3 linked regions of the Homo sapiens genome follow. The protein of the gene in region 2 interacts with the protein of the main gene of each other region in a biochemical or structural test. Each region holds a gene or a part of one and is shown on either strand. Other genes may lie near its edges. The genes, in order: MYLK2, MEF2C and IFRD1.

What was found.
Region 1: of the proteins of MEF2C (region 2) and MYLK2, one has a biochemical effect on the other in vitro, tested with the Homo sapiens proteins (one study listed by IntAct).
Region 3: the proteins of MEF2C (region 2) and IFRD1 form a complex in vitro, tested with the Homo sapiens proteins (one study listed by BioGRID).

What each region holds. Positions count from the first base shown.
Region 1 is NC_000020.11:31,814,354-31,822,355, forward strand, and holds the start of MYLK2 (myosin light chain kinase 2, skeletal/cardiac muscle), read left to right. Parts: upstream 1-5,002; 5' UTR 5,003-5,075; intron 5,076-5,179; 5' UTR 5,180-5,227; coding exon 5,228-5,279; intron 5,280-5,772; coding exon 5,773-6,193; intron 6,194-7,085; coding exon 7,086-7,384; intron 7,385-8,002. UniProt on the Homo sapiens protein: Implicated in the level of global muscle contraction and cardiac function. Phosphorylates a specific serine in the N-terminus of a myosin light chain.
Region 2 is NC_000005.10:88,719,140-88,726,262, reverse strand, and holds part of MEF2C (myocyte-specific enhancer factor 2C), read left to right. Parts: intron 1-3,337; coding exon 3,338-3,659; 3' UTR 3,660-7,123. UniProt on the Homo sapiens protein: Transcription activator which binds specifically to the MEF2 element present in the regulatory regions of many muscle-specific genes. Controls cardiac morphogenesis and myogenesis, and is also involved in vascular development.
Region 3 is NC_000007.14:112,474,376-112,477,742, reverse strand, and holds the end of IFRD1 (interferon-related developmental regulator 1), read right to left. Parts: intron 2,602-3,367; exon of another isoform or gene 2,508-2,601; intron 2,314-2,507; coding exon 2,224-2,313; 3' UTR 540-2,223; downstream 1-539. UniProt on the Homo sapiens protein: Could play a role in regulating gene activity in the proliferative and/or differentiative pathways induced by NGF. May be an autocrine factor that attenuates or amplifies the initial ligand-induced signal.

The sequences.
Region 1 (8,002 bases), on a different chromosome or scaffold from region 2:
CACTTCGCCCAGCCAGGAGGCTTCATTTTAAACCAACTCTGGGGCTTAGTTACTGAGAAAGCCTTGCAGTAGCTGAATTGCGAGTTCTCTGAGGCCCTGAGCCAAGAAGTCCTTTCATGGTGTTTTATAGCTCTTACCATTTTCTCTCTGAAGAAATCTGTGTCCACGTTGATATATTTGGAATTACTTATTGATCTGATTAAGAGTTACAAGTCATTTCCAAAAAAGTTGGAAAATCTAGATGAATAAAGAATAAAAATAATCTCTATTTCTACGCCTGTAAATATGTCCATTTATATCCCTCCAGCCATCTTCTTTGTAAATATTTTGAACAAAAAGGATCCCGCTCTATGGCTGATTTTTATTTAATTTATTTATTGAGACAGGGGCCCACCCTGTCACCCAGGCCATAGTGCAGTGACACAATCATGGCTCACTGCAGCCTCAACCTCCTGGTGTCAAGCAATCCTTCTACCTCAGCCTCCTGAGTAGCTTGGGACCACAGGTGTGCACTGCCACGCCTGGCGAATTTTTAAATTTTTTTGCAGAGATGGGGTCTCACCATGTTGCGCAGGCTGGTCGTGAACTCCTGGGCTCAAGTGATCCTCCAGCCTCGGCCTCTTAACATGCTAGGATTACAGGCATGGTTGATTTTTATAGTCTTTTTTCACCTAAAATGTAATATGCAGTGATTCTATAGCTCTCCCCCAATTTCATCTCTGTGTCCTGAAAGTGACCAGTTTAGTCCTTGTCACAGTAGAGCCCCCAGTAATTAATCTTAGCAATAAAATTCTATAACTGTGGGATGGAACAGTGTGTCAATTGCGTTTTCGGAGAAACCTATGTCCAATTTGCACACAGAACGCCCACAGACCTCTGCTTACTAGCTTGGCTGGAAGGACAGGGTCTGCTGTAAGGACAGCAACCTTACCTAGGGCTTTTCCAGAGGCCTGAGAGGTCCTGCCAAGGCCCTGGGCTCAGGGGTCCAAGGTGGGAGAGGGCGAGAGAAAACAACGTGCTAATGCAGCCTTGAGTGGCTCTCAAACAGGAGCAGAGGGAAGGCTGTGAGGGGAGTTGGCTGCTCTCTTTGGAGTCAGAAAGGTTGTTGCTCAACTCTTTGGATTTTCCATCACAGCTGGGCAGGGAGAGGGTCAGACTGGGCATGACTTCTCCGAACAGGTCCTTTTAAAGCCTCTTGGCTGAACTGATTTCCTCTCCAGAGCCAAGGAAGCAGTGCCTGGGTGAAGTTAACCCCTTCACCCCCAACACATTCTTCCAGAGCTAGGTGAGCCTGGAAGCCTAGGCTCCTGGAAGGCAGAGCTACACAGGGCAAGAGGCCTAAGGAGCCGTGAACTCTGGCTGGAGAAACCTTCCCTCTGGCCTTGTTAAATCCAACAGGCATAATTGCATCCTGCTGACCTTAATTCCCCTGGCGGGTTTAATTGGTCTTGGCATTGCCCCACTTCCTGTCCTGCCCCTGTAGAGGCAAAGAGGGTGTCTGCACAGCTGGTGCAGGGCGGGGAAGCCCCTTCTTGAGGGTGGGCAGGGGCTCTGGCAGCCCCTAGGTGGGTGGAGGAAGTTTCCCCGTGCCCCACCCCTGTGCCTCCAAGGGAGTGCTGAGAAGCTTGGGGACTCCCAGGGAGCAGCTGGCTGGAGCAGGCAGTCCCGTAGATTCGGAACCAGGCCAGACTCTCATCCCAGTGGGAGGCACTGCAGGGGAGCTGGCGGGAACAGATGAACCCTCTACCTGGGGTGTCCACGACATTATCAGGCCCCCACAGTGCTGTAGGTACTGTGCCATTGGGCACTCTTTACATGTGTGCTGGCTAAATGCTCGCAGCCATGCTGTGAGAGGGAGGCAATGGGGCAGAGCAGTTATGAGCAGAGCCTTGGGTTAGATGGGTCCAATCCCAACTCTATGACTTTGCCCTGTGACTCAGTTTTCCTGTCACATCTGTGAAATGGGGATTAAAGAGCTGACATTTATACAGCACTCGCTATGCTCACACTCACTGTTGTAATGCTTTATCTACCTCCTGGGAGGCAGATGCTCTCCTTACGGATGAGGAAACAGGTGAAGACATTGTTCCAAGCTCACAGTTACTGGTCGCAGCGCTTCATTGACAGATCTCCTAATCACTGCATGGTAGGGAGTTGTAAGACTCGAAGGAAGGATACTCATGAAGCTGCTTACCCCAGGGCCTGGTCCATTTTAGAAAGAGTTCAATAAGAGTAATTATTTGGGAATAATAATTATAACAAAAGTAGCACTAATGCCCCTGAAGTTGTCCCAGGCTGGATTTTGGTCTCATTGGGAGGTGGCTCTGGATTTGAATGTGGGTAGTTTGAAGCCATTCACTAGCTGAGTGACTGTGGGGACAAGCCACTTCCCTCTGTGAGCATCAGTTTCCACACCTTTAAAATGGTGTAACATTGGCCCCTACAGTCCCTTCTGAGGATCCAGGGAGCTGGATCTTTGGCATAGTCTGGCCTGGCCGTTGGTGGGCACTCAATAAATGACTGGTATTGATAACCACAATAATAACAAGGAGATGCCAGCAAGGTCCAGCATAGGGAGGTAACAAACTCCAGTCTGGAGCCTTCTGGTTAATCAGTTATTTACTCATCAGACACTGATGGGCAAGTCCACTCTGTGCTGGGGATGTGTTTAGCCCCTGGCCTTCAGGGGGCTCCCAGACAGTGTCAACCAATGGTGGGATCAGCTGGGGCACTGTGGGGAGGCCAGAAGCAGGGGACCCAACATTCCAAATTAAACTAAAACATGCTCTGGGCCAGATAGAGGGCCAGGAGGTCCTAATGATCCGCATTAGGACAGGAAACATTTCAACCTTTTGAATGCTGCAAGATCCACAAAGGGGTTACTCAGCAGGGAGAAGGGGGCAAGGCACAGGCTGGGACATTTTAGGAAGGGAAGAGGGCTTTGGAGTTTGAAGAACGACATTCCAAGCTCAACTCCCTTCCTTGCTGAGTGACTTTGGGCAAGCTACTGATTCCTTTAACTCTCCTCGTCCTCATGCAGAAAATGAGATGAGCGCTCCCCACAGAGTTATCATCAAGATGATGCTTAAAGGCAAGATGGCTAAAACGAATGACAGGTGCTCAGCAAGTGGAAGCTCCCTTTCTGCAGGGGACCTGGGTTCAGAGCTCAGTTCAGCCCCTTCCAAGCTGTGACTTTGAGTAAATTACATAACCTCTCCATGCCTTGGTTTCCCCATCTCTCTAGTACCTACCGCACTGGGTTCTTCTGAAGACCATTTGGGTGGATCAACATGAGAGCATGCAGAGCGAGGCCAGGCACGTGGTCAGTACCGTATAGGCATCAGCTGTTACTTTTGCTTCCTGGAAGAGGCAGACTGTTAACTGGACCTTAAAGAAGAGAAATGGAGGAGAGGAGGACCGGGCCTGGAGAGGAGGGCCAGGCAGAGCAAAAGTAGTCAAGACTGGGGAAAGAGCTCCAACTATGGTTTTTACCAGCTTATACCAAAAACCCTTGACATTTGCTCACAAAACAAAACATCCCACTCATTTTGAATAGTAGCCTGTTCACATAGTTCATGGTTCAAACAGAAAAGTCAAAGTATATACAGTGATGTCTCCTTCCCACCCTTGGGGCCCAGTTCCTTGCTTATCCTACCAAATAAATTCTTATGTGCATAAAGTGAAATATATATTATTCATATATTATTCTCCCTTTTTTTTTTGCACAAATGGATAGCACACTCTACATGCTACTTTGCATCTTGCTTTTTTTATTCCCCCCACTTTGGTGGTCACTTTTTGTCAGTTCATTAACAGCTTCCTCAATCTTTTTTTACAGGTTCCTATTTCCCCACTGCTTAGAGGGGCTGCATTCTCCCTCCTTTCTCTCATCAAGCGTTTTTCCAATGGCTTCCCATTTGACAGAGGAGCCGAGGCCATGGAGTGAAGTGACTGGTTTGCTGCAGTCAGGACCTGAACCTGGATAACCACTCTACAGCTACTTCATTTTATCTTACTTTTTAAAATATAAAGACGGGGTCTTGTTATGTTGCCCAGGCCAGTCTCCAACTCCTGGCCTCGAGTGATCCTCCTGCCTCAGCTTCCCAAAGTGTTGGGATTACAGGTGTGAACCACTGCTTCTGGCCTCTACAGCTACTTCTAATGCACCCAGGTCTGGCCAGTTCTCAAGAGCCCCCTCTGAGAAAGGCTCTGGGTGATGGAAGGCTCCTTGGATCATAGCTGTCCTCATCCTATCTCGAACACCTCAGGCTAGAGTGCCCCTCGGGCCACCCCTGTAGTGGAGCATCCTTGAAAAGACTCTCTGCCAGCCCCCTTCTTCCATGTGGGTCATGGGTGAGAACTGGATGAGCTTGGGGGAGGGGCACAGAGCACTCTCCATCTCCCATGGCTACTCAGGGCAGCCTCCGTGTCCCCAGGAGCCCAAGAAAAGGACAGTTTCAAAAGAAAAAGCTTCCAGGCCTATGGACATGTTGAGAAAGTGCCCCCGAGACAATTTCTTACCCAAAGGTGACGCAAGCAGGTCCAGATGTCGAGGCACAGAGCTAGGCACTAGGGTCAGGGAGATTATCCCTGGGACTTTGTGGCTCTAGCCAGGTTCTGGGGAGCCCCAGGAGATGTGGCACACAGGTGGGCAGACCAGGGCTCAGCCTGGGCATACTCTTGCCCTTCAGGCCTGCCTGAGTACTCCCCTTCTTCCAGGCCCCCTCTGATCCTGTCCAAGTCAGGGATACTGAGCAAGGCCTGGGGAAAGGGCTGCTCCCCCAGCGTCCCAGATACCCCTCCCTTTTCTCGCTTGTTCCAACATCATTCTCCCCCCAGTCGGGCCATGGGAAGAATGCCGTGTCCTCTGAACTGGGGCCAAGAGTGACAGGTGGCGGCAGTCCCAGCTGCATGGCCCCTGGTGTAAGAGATCCTCTCCTCCGTCCCCGCCTCCACTGCCCACACCCCTGCCTCCGCCTCTGCCCACCCGGCCCAATCCCTTACAACTGCCCAGGACTGCTCCTGAGCAGCCGCTGGGAGACAGACGGCAACCAGGTTGCCCCTCTTTGCTCCAGGTACCTCTCTCCCCTCAGTTAGCAGGCCTCGGCTTCCTGTCTCACTGCAGCCAGACGAGAGGGGAAATTGGACAGCCTGACACACTCCACTCTTGTTTCTGCAGCTAGAAAGACTTGAGTTAGACAAGCAGCAGCACACGCCTCCCTACCTCATGGCGACAGAAAATGGAGCAGTTGAGCTGGGAATTCAGAACCCATCAACAGGTGCCAAGCTGGGGCAGGAGATGGAGGGAGGAGCTTGGGAAGGGGGGTTTTGAATCCAGGACTGGGCAGGTTCCTCAGTGGGAGTTCTGTGCCCCAGCCTTGTTTGCATGGTGCACGGGGGACCCAGAAATCAGAGGAATCTCTGGCTAGGGTTGGGCTGGGTCCAGGGCCTGTATGAAGCCCTTCCTGGAGAGACCAGGAAAATGTGAAGCCACCAGGGATGGCTGCTGGGGATGCACCTAAACAGTCAGGGCAAGGATGATGGGGGCCACCAAGGCCCACCCAAAGGGCTGGAAGCCTCCCACAGAGGCCCTCCAAGGTCGTGGCAGCTCATCTCTAGGGGCCATCAAGTGGCCCCAGAGACTCAGTGGGACAAGCATTTGCAAGTTGTTGCCTGGGTGGGAACCTGGGCCCAGAGCTGGTCTCTGCCCAGCCTGGGTGAGAGGGAAGGAAAGGAGGGTGGATCCTGATGGGTGTCTCACCTCCTCTGCAGACAAGGCACCTAAAGGTCCCACAGGTGAAAGACCCCTGGCTGCAGGGAAAGACCCTGGCCCCCCAGACCCAAAGAAAGCTCCGGATCCACCCACCCTGAAGAAAGATGCCAAAGCCCCTGCCTCAGAGAAAGGGGATGGTACCCTGGCCCAACCCTCAACTAGCAGCCAAGGCCCCAAAGGAGAGGGTGACAGGGGCGGGGGGCCCGCGGAGGGCAGTGCTGGGCCCCCGGCAGCCCTGCCCCAGCAGACTGCGACACCTGAGACCAGCGTCAAGAAGCCCAAGGCTGAGCAGGGAGCCTCAGGCAGCCAGGATCCTGGAAAGCCCAGGGTGGGCAAGAAGGCAGCAGAGGGCCAAGCAGCAGCCAGGAGGGGCTCACCTGCCTTTCTGCATAGCCCCAGCTGTCCTGCCATCATCTCCAGGTGAATATCCCCTCCTGGGAGTGGGGAGGGGTCCTGTGGTTCTGTCCCTAGGGGTCCTGCTTAATTCCCTTGTCTTAGGCATGGTTATCATCACATTCAGTGCTGGGGAGTGTAGTTCTGACATTCAGTTTCCTCTGTCCTGTGAATTGCCTCTACCGCCTTGTCCCCTGCAGAAACCAGAACCCTGCCACAATTCATACAAGACTGGAGTAAGAGAGACCCTCAAAGACTGCCTAGGTTGAACATATCTTCTCTAGGCTTCTGGGGTCCGAAGTTCCCCTTACTCCATGGGCTTGGGTCTAGCCAAGGGCAGGGTTGAGATGGCAGGCAGAAAGGCTAAAGGTGTCAGGCAAAAGGCTGTGTATTTCCTAGGACATCCAGTATTTTCCTGTTCTTCTTAATATAATTATTGGTAAGATATGAAAAGATGACTAATAACCAGATTGGAGGATCATTGATAATATTTTCATAACCATAATATAGCACATGTGTGATGCCATCAGTTATACTTACCTGAATGCTAATGAGGTCATTAATGATATATTGTAAGCCACAATAAGAACATTTACCATATCACTTTGATAATTATGTATCAATTATATCACAACAGATTTTATGAATCAAGAGCTACATAACTCCCTAGTTGTATCCACATGATGATTAACCATATCAACAATCCTATTAATAGTTATTAATGATGTATTAGTGTGTTGGTAGTCAAGATAATGACCACAGCCATGAACATCCCTTAATTTTGTACCAGGTGAATTTGGCTGTATTACACCATGCATTTGGGGTGGGGTTGGATTAGCTCTGCAGATTGCATTGAGACTTGCCTGATGCCACAGGCTGTGGCCGCTGAGGGCTTCACCTCTGTGTTCTCACCTTCTAGTTCTGAGAAGCTGCTGGCCAAGAAGCCCCCAAGCGAGGCATCAGAGCTCACCTTTGAAGGGGTGCCCATGACCCACAGCCCCACGGATCCCAGGCCAGCCAAGGCAGAAGAAGGAAAGAACATCCTGGCAGAGAGCCAGAAGGAAGTGGGAGAGAAAACCCCAGGCCAGGCTGGCCAGGCTAAGATGCAAGGGGACACCTCGAGGGGGATTGAGTTCCAGGCTGTTCCCTCAGAGAAATCCGAGGTGGGGCAGGCCCTCTGTCTCACAGCCAGGGAGGAGGACTGCTTCCAGATTTTGGGTAGGCCAGGGGCAGGTGGGGGCTGGGGCTGCCCTGGGGCCAGGGGGAGGGAAGGGGGCTGTCAGTCCCAAGTCTACCTATTCGGAGGTCTGAACTGCCCTGAGCCAAGCCTTACCCAGGCCCATTCATCTAAGGGTCACACAACTCCAGAAAGTATTCCTTTTTTAACGTATGTTTATTCATTTGTTTATTTGTTTTAAAAGATAGGGTCTTGCTACGTTGCCCAGGCTGGCTTCAAACTCCCAGCCTCAAGTGATCCTCCCACCTTGGCCTCCCGAGTAGCTGGGACTACAGGCGTGTACAACCATACCTGGCTTTCTTCAATCTTATTTTTTAAGATGTATTTTTATTTTTAAATTTAGTATTCCCTTTTGATAGATGGGGAAAGGAAGGCTCAGAAAAAGGAAAATGAAGTGCCCAAACATATCCAGTGAAGACAGGATTTGAACCTGTCAGGCCACCCAGACTCCAGAACCCACTTTTGAGTTTTTTCTACTTTGACTAAAATGAAGTTAAAAAAAAGAAAAATCAGGCAGATTATTGGAGCAACACAAACTCCCTGGGCAATGGAATTTGGAGTCAATCTGTAGAAGGGCTCAAATGCCAGGCTTAGTAGCT
Region 2 (7,123 bases):
GGCTAGAGACAATGTTCATAGCAGAGTGGAATATATTTCAGCTCCACCAAAGTAGATATTCCCAGCAGCCCAAGATGGTTACCACAATTCTTTCTCAAAATTGCAAAACCATAAACAGAGTTCTTCATATTTTGTCCATGGAAAAAAAGTTCATTTTGTCCTTTGGAGCTTTAAGTCTTCAAAGCTATACTTTTAAAACCTAGTATCTGATTTTATCTAACCAAGCTAAGTAAGCAACACAAATTTATTTGCTATAGGGAGAGAGATGGCTGACAGAGGAACTTGCCATCAAGAGTTAATGAAAGTCCTTTGAATACTAATATTTGATTTAGTGTAACACTAAGTTTTAGTGTTTTTCTAAACCACCACCTATAAAAAGGGCAGCCTGTTTTCTGGAAGCATTTCCATACGTCAACTTTGTTGATGTGGGTGTTCAGTACATACTGAGAGAGATAACTCTGAGTAGAGATGACTTATAAAAGGTTAGGTTAAATATAGTTTGATAGTCTAATTTCCAGGCGGAGGCAGTAAAAATTTTGAATAAAACTATCCAGTCATGTTTGATTTCTGAACAATTATGGGAAAGGGTAGGAGTTTTCCCAATTCAAAAGCATCTGTAATAGATGAAAATTTGCATAGAGGACTTGATATGGGTAACTTGCATATCTGGCTTCTATCTCCCCACCCACCTCTTTATCACCCACCCACACATATGCAGTATTTCACAATTATCAGGGTCTATAATTATTCGTGTCTATATTTTGTTCTCAAGTAGACCAACATGCTTATATCTGAACCTAGCATATATGCAGTTAAGTTATTTTAATGCTACTTTTTTCTTTTCAAGAAAATACTTCTTTGTTAACAGAGACTAGCCATTCTATTTTATATCCTATGTCACAGTATAATGAAGCTGAATCTAAGATATCACTTGCATTTTACTACTGTGGATTTAGTCCCCAGAACTACTCAAAATGCTTCATGTATGTTTTCAGTGTCAAATGAAATTCCACCAAAAGATAAATTTAAGCTAGTCTGTTTGTAGGAAGGGATAACCAATAATTGTTACATCTTTCATGGGGAAGATACACAGCTAAACCTATACAGGCCAGTTAACATAGGAAGATGATGCAAAGAGGTGAATAATGCAGCTTCCAAAAACTGTATTAAAGAAACAGAATTTTGGTTATATTATTTTTCCCTTACCTTGTCTAGATTAACTGCTTAGACTGTCCAACTCACCAATTTTTTCTTCTAATTTTCTATGTCACCCTCCCTGTGAAGACATAATCTGTATGTCAAAGAGCAAGCAAAAGTATTTATTGACATATCACTTTTTATTTTCAGACTCCTAATTCATATTCATTATTAAATAGTTGTGTGATTCATAGCAGAAGCATTTAATTAAATTTTAGTGAAATGGTCTTTCTTAGAGCCAGGAAAATTCTTTATTCCAGAAATCAAAAGACGATTTCCTCAAACATCAGAATGAATCACTAAGTAACTTTGAACCAAGATAAAATAGTCTACCATTATGAATCCTTTTGAAATACAGGTGTTCCCTCTCCCCATTTTAACAAGGCTTATTTAATTAAAACTTTTGGAAAATTAGTAAACTGATAGACTATAAATTAATAAGCTACAAATAAATAGCTCCAAATATAAACAGGTGTTTGAAAATTATATACAGTCAGTGTAGTTTCTTGATATAAATGCTAACACTGCTTTGATTATATAAGATCATAAAAGCTAGAGAAAGAGACGCTTATTAAGGAAACAAATAATTCTCCTTTATATTATTCTCTACATTAGCTCATCTATTTATTAATAGGAGAAGGAAAGTAATTCTTTGCCAGTAGGTGGTGCTTTTGTACAAAACATCACTCAAAGATAAACTCGTTTCTGACTAATTTTATATCACTATACATCTTGAGTTTGTATTGCATCTCCCAAAAAGCCAGCCCCAAGTTACTTCACTTTTTTTCTGAAATATATACTTTTTCTCTCAGTGGTCATAATGACATTGTTAGTGCCAACTAATTCTCTCCACTGGAAAGCAGCATAATTACATACATTAGTAAGTAGGCTTGCTTTCCTTTGTTTAAAATGGGTGTGTCTGTATGGATAATTCTTCACTTGGATTCTTCCTCAGTAAAAGAGAGTACCATGCTCTTTTGACAATATAGTCAAGTAATCCTGACTCTAGCTCTGGAAGTCAGTGTAATTAGTGTAAGAAGAGTAAAAGCATCTTAAAATTGATGCGAGCAATGCCACTATGGTTTATCCTGATCAAAGTCATTGTGATTGCTAATCTACACTTAAGGGCTTAATACTTTTTTCCTCTAGAATTCCAAGTTTCTAAATTTTCCCAGATTTTGGAAAAAGGAAAAATTATTCTCTCTGGGAATATATGAGGATTAAGGATTATAAACACAGTAAAATCACACTACATCCTTCTTGGCAACAAGCTTTCCTTAGGCAACACCAGATTCATCAACTAATGCCAATGATAAATAAGAGGAGTGGTAGCCTAAGAACCGCACGCATCAGGGAGTGACTAACATTAATAAAATTGAGGTCATTGTGGAACACAAAGTATTTTCATCTCATGTAACTGCAAAAGGATGAAGAAAGTCAAATTATCAGTTTTAATGGAGTAGAAAGTCTTAAGTGTTTGAAAACCAACGTTTAAACTTTCTGCAGATAATTTTCAATTTCCCTCCCCCTTTCCATTTTTTCCACCTCCAAAGCTTTTTACCAGATACAGTTATTGTGCAGCATTTGAGTTCTAGTCATTTAAAATTTAACTCCCTTCACTTTCTCTGAAGACTATGTGATTCCATCTGTATGTGCTTATTAATTGGAGGCAAATATTTATATTGATAATAAGCTTTTAAAAATAATATTCAAACACAAGCATTAGTAAATCAAGGAAGTCTAATTCCAGAGCTAAACACTGTATCTAAATGCTTAGAAATTTAATTTTTAGAACTAGTCTAGGGATAGAGTCCATGAACACAGAAAATGCTTTTTCCATTGTGTCTTAAACCTTTCTGAAATGGTAACCTATATGTTTAGGGAGCCTCTCGGAGACTAGAGATATAATTCATGAGGCCTGGACCAGTTAAATGCTGTAATTACTACCGGGCAAATCAACAAAGGCATCCTAAATCGCCCTGAGAAGGCGATGCCCTTATGTGCTTCCAAGCACGTTTTCTTCACTCTGGGCATGCTCTGGTGTCTATGCGAGTCTTTAAGCTGATGTTTGATTTAATTGTGAGTTCCTGGGGCCTCCAGGCCTCCTTCATCTGTAACTGGGTTTCCTTTCCTCCTACAGAGCTTGCACTAGCACTCATTTATCTCAGAGTTCAAATCTCTCCCTGCCTTCTACTCAAAGCCTCAACATCAAGTCAGAACCTGTTTCTCCTCCTAGAGACCGTACCACCACCCCTTCGAGATACCCACAACACACGCGCCACGAGGCGGGGAGATCTCCTGTTGACAGCTTGAGCAGCTGTAGCAGTTCGTACGACGGGAGCGACCGAGAGGATCACCGGAACGAATTCCACTCCCCCATTGGACTCACCAGACCTTCGCCGGACGAAAGGGAAAGTCCCTCAGTCAAGCGCATGCGACTTTCTGAAGGATGGGCAACATGATCAGATTATTACTTACTAGTTTTTTTTTTTTTCTTGCAGTGTGTGTGTGTGCTATACCTTAATGGGGAAGGGGGGTCGATATGCATTATATGTGCCGTGTGTGGAAAAAAAAAAAGTCAGGTACTCTGTTTTGTAAAAGTACTTTTAAATTGCCTCAGTGATACAGTATAAAGATAAACAGAAATGCTGAGATAAGCTTAGCACTTGAGTTGTACAACAGAACACTTGTACAAAATAGATTTTAAGGCTAACTTCTTTTCACTGTTGTGCTCCTTTGCAAAATGTATGTTACAATAGATAGTGTCATGTTGCAGGTTCAACGTTATTTACATGTAAATAGACAAAAGGAAACATTTGCCAAAAGCGGCAGATCTTTACTGAAAGAGAGAGCAGCTGTTATGCAACATATAGAAAAATGTATAGATGCTTGGACAGACCCGGTAATGGGTGGCCATTGGTAAATGTTAGGAACACACCAGGTCACCTGACATCCCAAGAATGCTCACAAACCTGCAGGCATATCATTGGCGTATGGCACTCATTAAAAAGGATCAGAGACCATTAAAAGAGGACCATACCTATTAAAAAAAAATGTGGAGTTGGAGGGCTAACATATTTAATTAAATAAATAAATAAATCTGGGTCTGCATCTCTTATTAAATAAAAATATAAAAATATGTACATTACATTTTGCTTATTTTCATATAAAAGGTAAGACAGAGTTTGCAAAGCATTTGTGGCTTTTTGTAGTTTACTTAAGCCAAAATGTGTTTTTTTCCCCTTGATAGCTTCGCTAATATTTTAAACAGTCCTGTAAAAAACCAAAAAGGACTTTTTGTATAGAAAGCACTACCCTAAGCCATGAAGAACTCCATGCTTTGCTAACCAAGATAACTGTTTTCTCTTTGTAGAAGTTTTGTTTTTGAAATGTGTATTTCTAATTATATAAAATATTAAGAATCTTTTAAAAAAATCTGTGAAATTAACATGCTTGTGTATAGCTTTCTAATATATATAATATTATGGTAATAGCAGAAGTTTTGTTATCTTAATAGCGGGAGGGGGGTATATTTGTGCAGTTGCACATTTGAGTAACTATTTTCTTTCTGTTTTCTTTTACTCTGCTTACATTTTATAAGTTTAAGGTCAGCTGTCAAAAGGATAACCTGTGGGGTTAGAACATATCACATTGCAACACCCTAAATTGTTTTTAATACATTAGCAATCTATTGGGTCAACTGACATCCATTGTATATACTAGTTTCTTTCATGCTATTTTTATTTTGTTTTTTGCATTTTTATCAAATGCAGGGCCCCTTTCTGATCTCACCATTTCACCATGCATCTTGGAATTCAGTAAGTGCATATCCTAACTTGCCCATATTCTAAATCATCTGGTTGGTTTTCAGCCTAGAATTTGATACGCTTTTTAGAAATATGCCCAGAATAGAAAAGCTATGTTGGGGCACATGTCCTGCAAATATGGCCCTAGAAACAAGTGATATGGAATTTACTTGGTGAATAAGTTATAAATTCCCACAGAAGAAAAATGTGAAAGACTGGGTGCTAGACAAGAAGGAAGCAGGTAAAGGGATAGTTGCTTTGTCATCCGTTTTTAATTATTTTAACTGACCCTTGACAATCTTGTCAGCAATATAGGACTGTTGAACAATCCCGGTGTGTCAGGACCCCCAAATGTCACTTCTGCATAAAGCATGTATGTCATCTATTTTTTCTTCAATAAAGAGATTTAATAGCCATTTCAAGAAATCCCATAAAGAACCTCTCTATGTCCCTTTTTTTAATTTAAAAAAAATGACTCTTGTCTAATATTCGTCTATAAGGGATTAATTTTCAGACCCTTTAATAAGTGAGTGCCATAAGAAAGTCAATATATATTGTTTAAAAGATATTTCAGTCTAGGAAAGATTTTCCTTCTCTTGGAATGTGAAGATCTGTCGATTCATCTCCAATCATATGCATTGACATACACAGCAAAGAAGATATAGGCAGTAATATCAACACTGCTATATCATGTGTAGGACATTTCTTATCCATTTTTTCTCTTTTACTTGCATAGTTGCTATGTGTTTCTCATTGTAAAAGGCTGCCGCTGGGTGGCAGAAGCCAAGAGACCTTATTAACTAGGCTATATTTTTCTTAACTTGATCTGAAATCCACAATTAGACCACAATGCACCTTTGGTTGTATCCATAAAGGATGCTAGCCTGCCTTGTACTAATGTTTTATATATTAAAAAAAAAAAATCTATCAACCATTTCATATATATCCCACTACTCAAGGTATCCATGGAACATGAAAGAATAACATTTATGCAGAGGAAAAACAAAAACATCCCTGAAAATATACACACTCATACACACACACGCACAGGGGAATAAAATAAGAAAATCATTTTCCTCACCATAGACTTGATCCCATCCTTACAACCCATCCTTCTAACTTGATGTGTATAAAATATGCAAACATTTCACAAATGTTCTTTGTCATTTCAAAATACTTTAGTATATCAATATCAGTAGATACCAGTGGGTGGGAAAGGGTCATTACATGAAAATATGAAGAAATAGCCATATTAGTTTTTTAACCTGCAATTTGCCTCAGCAACAAAGAAAAAGTGAATTTTTAATGCTGAAGATAAAGTAAGCTAAAGTACCAGCAGAAGCCTTGGCTATTTATAGCAGTTCTGACAATAGTTTTATAAGAACATGAAGAGAACAGAATCACTTGAAAATGGATGCCAGTCATCTCTTGTTCCCACTACTGAATTCTTATAAAGTGGTGGCAAGATAGGGAAGGGATAATCTGAGAATTTTTAAAAGATGATTTAATGAGAAGAAGCACAATTTTGATTTTGATGAGTCACTTTCTGTAAACAATCTTGGTCTATCTTTACCCTTATACCTTATCTGTAATTTACCATTTATTGTATTTGCAAAGCTAGTATGGTTTTTAATCACAGTAAATCCTTTGTATTCCAGACTTTAGGGCAGAGCCCTGAGGGAGTATTATTTTACATAACCCGTCCTAGAGTAACATTTTAGGCAACATTCTTCATTGCAAGTAAAAGATCCATAAGTGGCATTTTACACGGCTGCGAGTATTGTTATATCTAATCCTATTTTAAAAGATTTTTGGTAATATGAAGCTTGAATACTGGTAACAGTGATGCAATATACGCAAGCTGCACAACCTGTATATTGTATGCATTGCTGCGTGGAGGCTGTTTATTTCAACCTTTTTAAAAATTGTGTTTTTTAGTAAAATGGCTTATTTTTTCCCAAAGGTGGAATTTAGCATTTTGTAATGATGAATATAAAAATACCTGTCATCCCCAGATCATTTAAAAGTTAACTAAAGTGAGAATGAAAAAACAAAATTCCAAGACACTTTTTAAAAGAATGTCTGCCCTCACACACTTTTATGGATTTGTTTTTCTTACA
Region 3 (3,367 bases), on a different chromosome or scaffold from region 2:
TAGAAGGATGTGAAACAATAAAAGAAATTTTCACCTGTCTTAATAGTAAGTTGACAAACACCTAAAAAATAAATGGCTGTATAATCATATTATTTAGAAACCTAAAACCAAAAACTGAAGGCTGAAAGAACCGAGCTAGAAAAAACTGAAGGCTGAATGTCTCTTGGGATGGGACTGAGGAATAGGAAAGGATGGAGCAAGGGGCTTTCCTTATTAGCCTTGAAGTACCATTAAACTATGTTCAGGCTGGGCACGGTGGCTCATGCCTGTAATCCCAACACTTTGGGAGACCAAGGCGGGCAGATCACTTGAGGTCAGGAGTTCAAGACCAGCCTGGCCAACATGGTGAAACCCCATCACAACTAAAAATATAAATTAGCCAGGTGTGGTGGAACACACCTGTAATCCCAGCAACTCAGGAGGCTGAGGCAGGAGAATCGTTTGGACCCTGAAGGCAGAGGTTACAGTGAGCCAAGATTGCGCTACTGCACCCCAGCCTGCGCAACAGAGGGAGACTGTCTCAAAAACAAACAAAAACCTATGTTCATACAACACTTTAATAAAAATTCATTATTTATTTATAATTACATGTACATACATATATGCATTTGAATATCTAGAAGAAACTACCATTTGCAATCTCTTTTCCATGGTTCTAACCTACTTGGAACATAACCAAGTGACAACATACAAACAAGTTCTAGATTCTAAACCTGTTTTCCACTGCACTGTAACTGGGGGATGGGACTCAGCAACAGTGACTCCATAAGCCAGCAAATGATTTTCACCTAGAGGGAGCACCAGACTTCCAAGAGTTGTTGGGATGTGGGAGGGGAACACTAGTTTGGAAAAAAGACCTTAAATGATTTTGATACTTCTCCCTACAGTATATATGCTTCCCTACCCCTCACGGCGACCTACAGCAAGAGTATCAAAGAAACAAGTCTACGGATTTGAAATGGCATGTTGCTTGCACTATATATTTTAATCTAAAGTTTATTAAATGTTAACGTGTTGTCAAAATGCTTTTCATAAAATGAAAGAAATATACCTCATGGGCAAACAAGCAGCAATATTCTTTTTTGTTTTGCTTTTGAGACAAGGTCTCACTCGTCACCCAGGCTGGAGTGGCACAATCACGGCTCACTGCAGCTTTGACCTCCTGGGCTCAAGTTACCCTCTTGCCTCAGCACCCAAGTAGATAAAGAGTAGAAGCACACACCACCACACTCATTTTTTAAATTTCTGGTAGAGACAGGGTCTCGCTATGTTGCCCAGGCTGGTCTCAAACTGGGCTCATGCCATCCTCCCGCCTCAGCCTCCCCAGAGTGCTGATTATAGGCATGAGCCACACTGCATGTTGCCAAGCAGAAATATTCTTGAAAGTCAGAAACCTTAATCCCAATTATGTATTGCTACATTCTTTTCATCTACTTTAATGTTTGTAAATATACACATAAAGCTTTGTCTCCCTGCCCACCTGGCCTAGTCATTTTGGACTCTGTACCTCAAAGCCATAAATAATATTTCTTCTATTAGAAGAGAAGCACTTTCAGTGTGGAAAAAAATCTTTATTTCAAAGTAAAATGCACAAAGTCTCATACAGCAGATAAAATCAGTGTTACTGCTCTCAGATGTTAAGGTTAGCAACCTTTCTGGCATATGCTAATTCATCATGAACTCCCAATAGCTGAACTGAATGGCTTTTAAGTACAGCTATAAGGTCTCATGGTATAATTCCTTTTGTTGATGCCAGTGACAGGATTTTAAAAGCTACATTCCATTAAAAATTAAAAATACAGCAGCTTTTCCAGGGGAACTAGATCCCAAAATTGTACCCAGAACTCTTGTCTAAGATATTAAGTTAAATATCTTGCATGTATATATCATTATAGTAAATCAGTATTCTTGACAACCACAGTGTAAGAAATTAAACTTTGGCTAATTGTTTTCCCCATCATGAAATCAGTCTTTTGCTGTCTTCATAAATAAATTATGACCAAACATTACAAATACTTTATACATGTTTACTGATTTACAGAGAATATTTAATAATCAGAACTCACCAGTTTCAATAGTATTGTACATTAAATTATAAGCAATATAACCACTGCTACAAAAGTTATCTAAGTTAATCCAGGATAAAAACTGTGTCTAGAGTTTAAATACATTGAAATAGAAAAAAAAATAGAAATTAGAAAATAGTCTTCAAGTTCTGAAAATCTAGAAGAATTCTCCAACATCTGCTCTCTTATCTCGACATTTGCTTCTAGCTTTGGTTCGAGCTTTGAAGGCTGCAGAGTTATATAAATGCTAAAATGAAAAAAAGGAAAAACGTGCATCAGTAAGACTTAAGATATTCTTACAAAACAGAAAAAGGGTAAAAGTCACAAAGAAAAGAAATGAACTAATTTGACCCTATAAACATTTAAATGTTTATAAAACACACACAAAGAATGAAGGAGAAAAACAAAGAGTTAACAGGGGCCATGCAAGGTGGCTCACACCTGTAATCCCAGCACTCTGGGAGGCCGAGGTGGGCGAATCACGAGGTCAGGAGATTGAGACCATCCTGGCTAACACGGTGAAATCCCGTCTCTACTAAAAATACAAAAAATTAGCCAGGCATGGTGGCACATGCCTGTAGTCCCAGCTACTCGGGAGGCTGAGGCAGGAGAATCGTTTGAACCCGAGAGGCAGAGGTTGCAGTGAGCCGAGATCACGCCACTGCACTCCAGCCTGGGCAACAGAACGAGACTCCGTCTCAAAAAAAATAAATAAATAAAGAGTTAATGGCTATTCCATATTAAGAAAAGTACTAATCAAATTGTAAAACGCCAAGAAAGTTAGACGATTTCAAAAACCAACAGTGAAAAATGGACATCAACATTGTTTCATCCAAGAAAAGACAAATCATGACTAATGCAGAAAATAGTCCTACTTGGCTGTCAATTAGAACAAGGAAAAAAGTGATGAAGTGCCATTTTAATATCAATTAAATAAACACATTTTTTAAATTATAAAACTCAATGGTGTCAAATCTTTGTGTAACAGCTACATGCCTTCATTCATTGCTGGAGACAATTTAAATATCGTCTCCAATATAAGAGTAACTTTGGAAAGTAATTTGGCAATACATTATGCAGGGGATTTCTTCAAAAAAATTATTCAAAAGAGAGAAGTATGTAAAAATATTAATGTTTCTTAAAAAAAACTTAAAATGCCGTACAAGAAACAATTATGTGGATATAAAACTGATAAAATATCCAGGTTCTATAAAATGTAATTAAACACTTCACACCCACCAGAATGGCTATAATTAAAATAATTATTAGTGAGGATGTGGAGAAACTGGAACCTTTCTTTC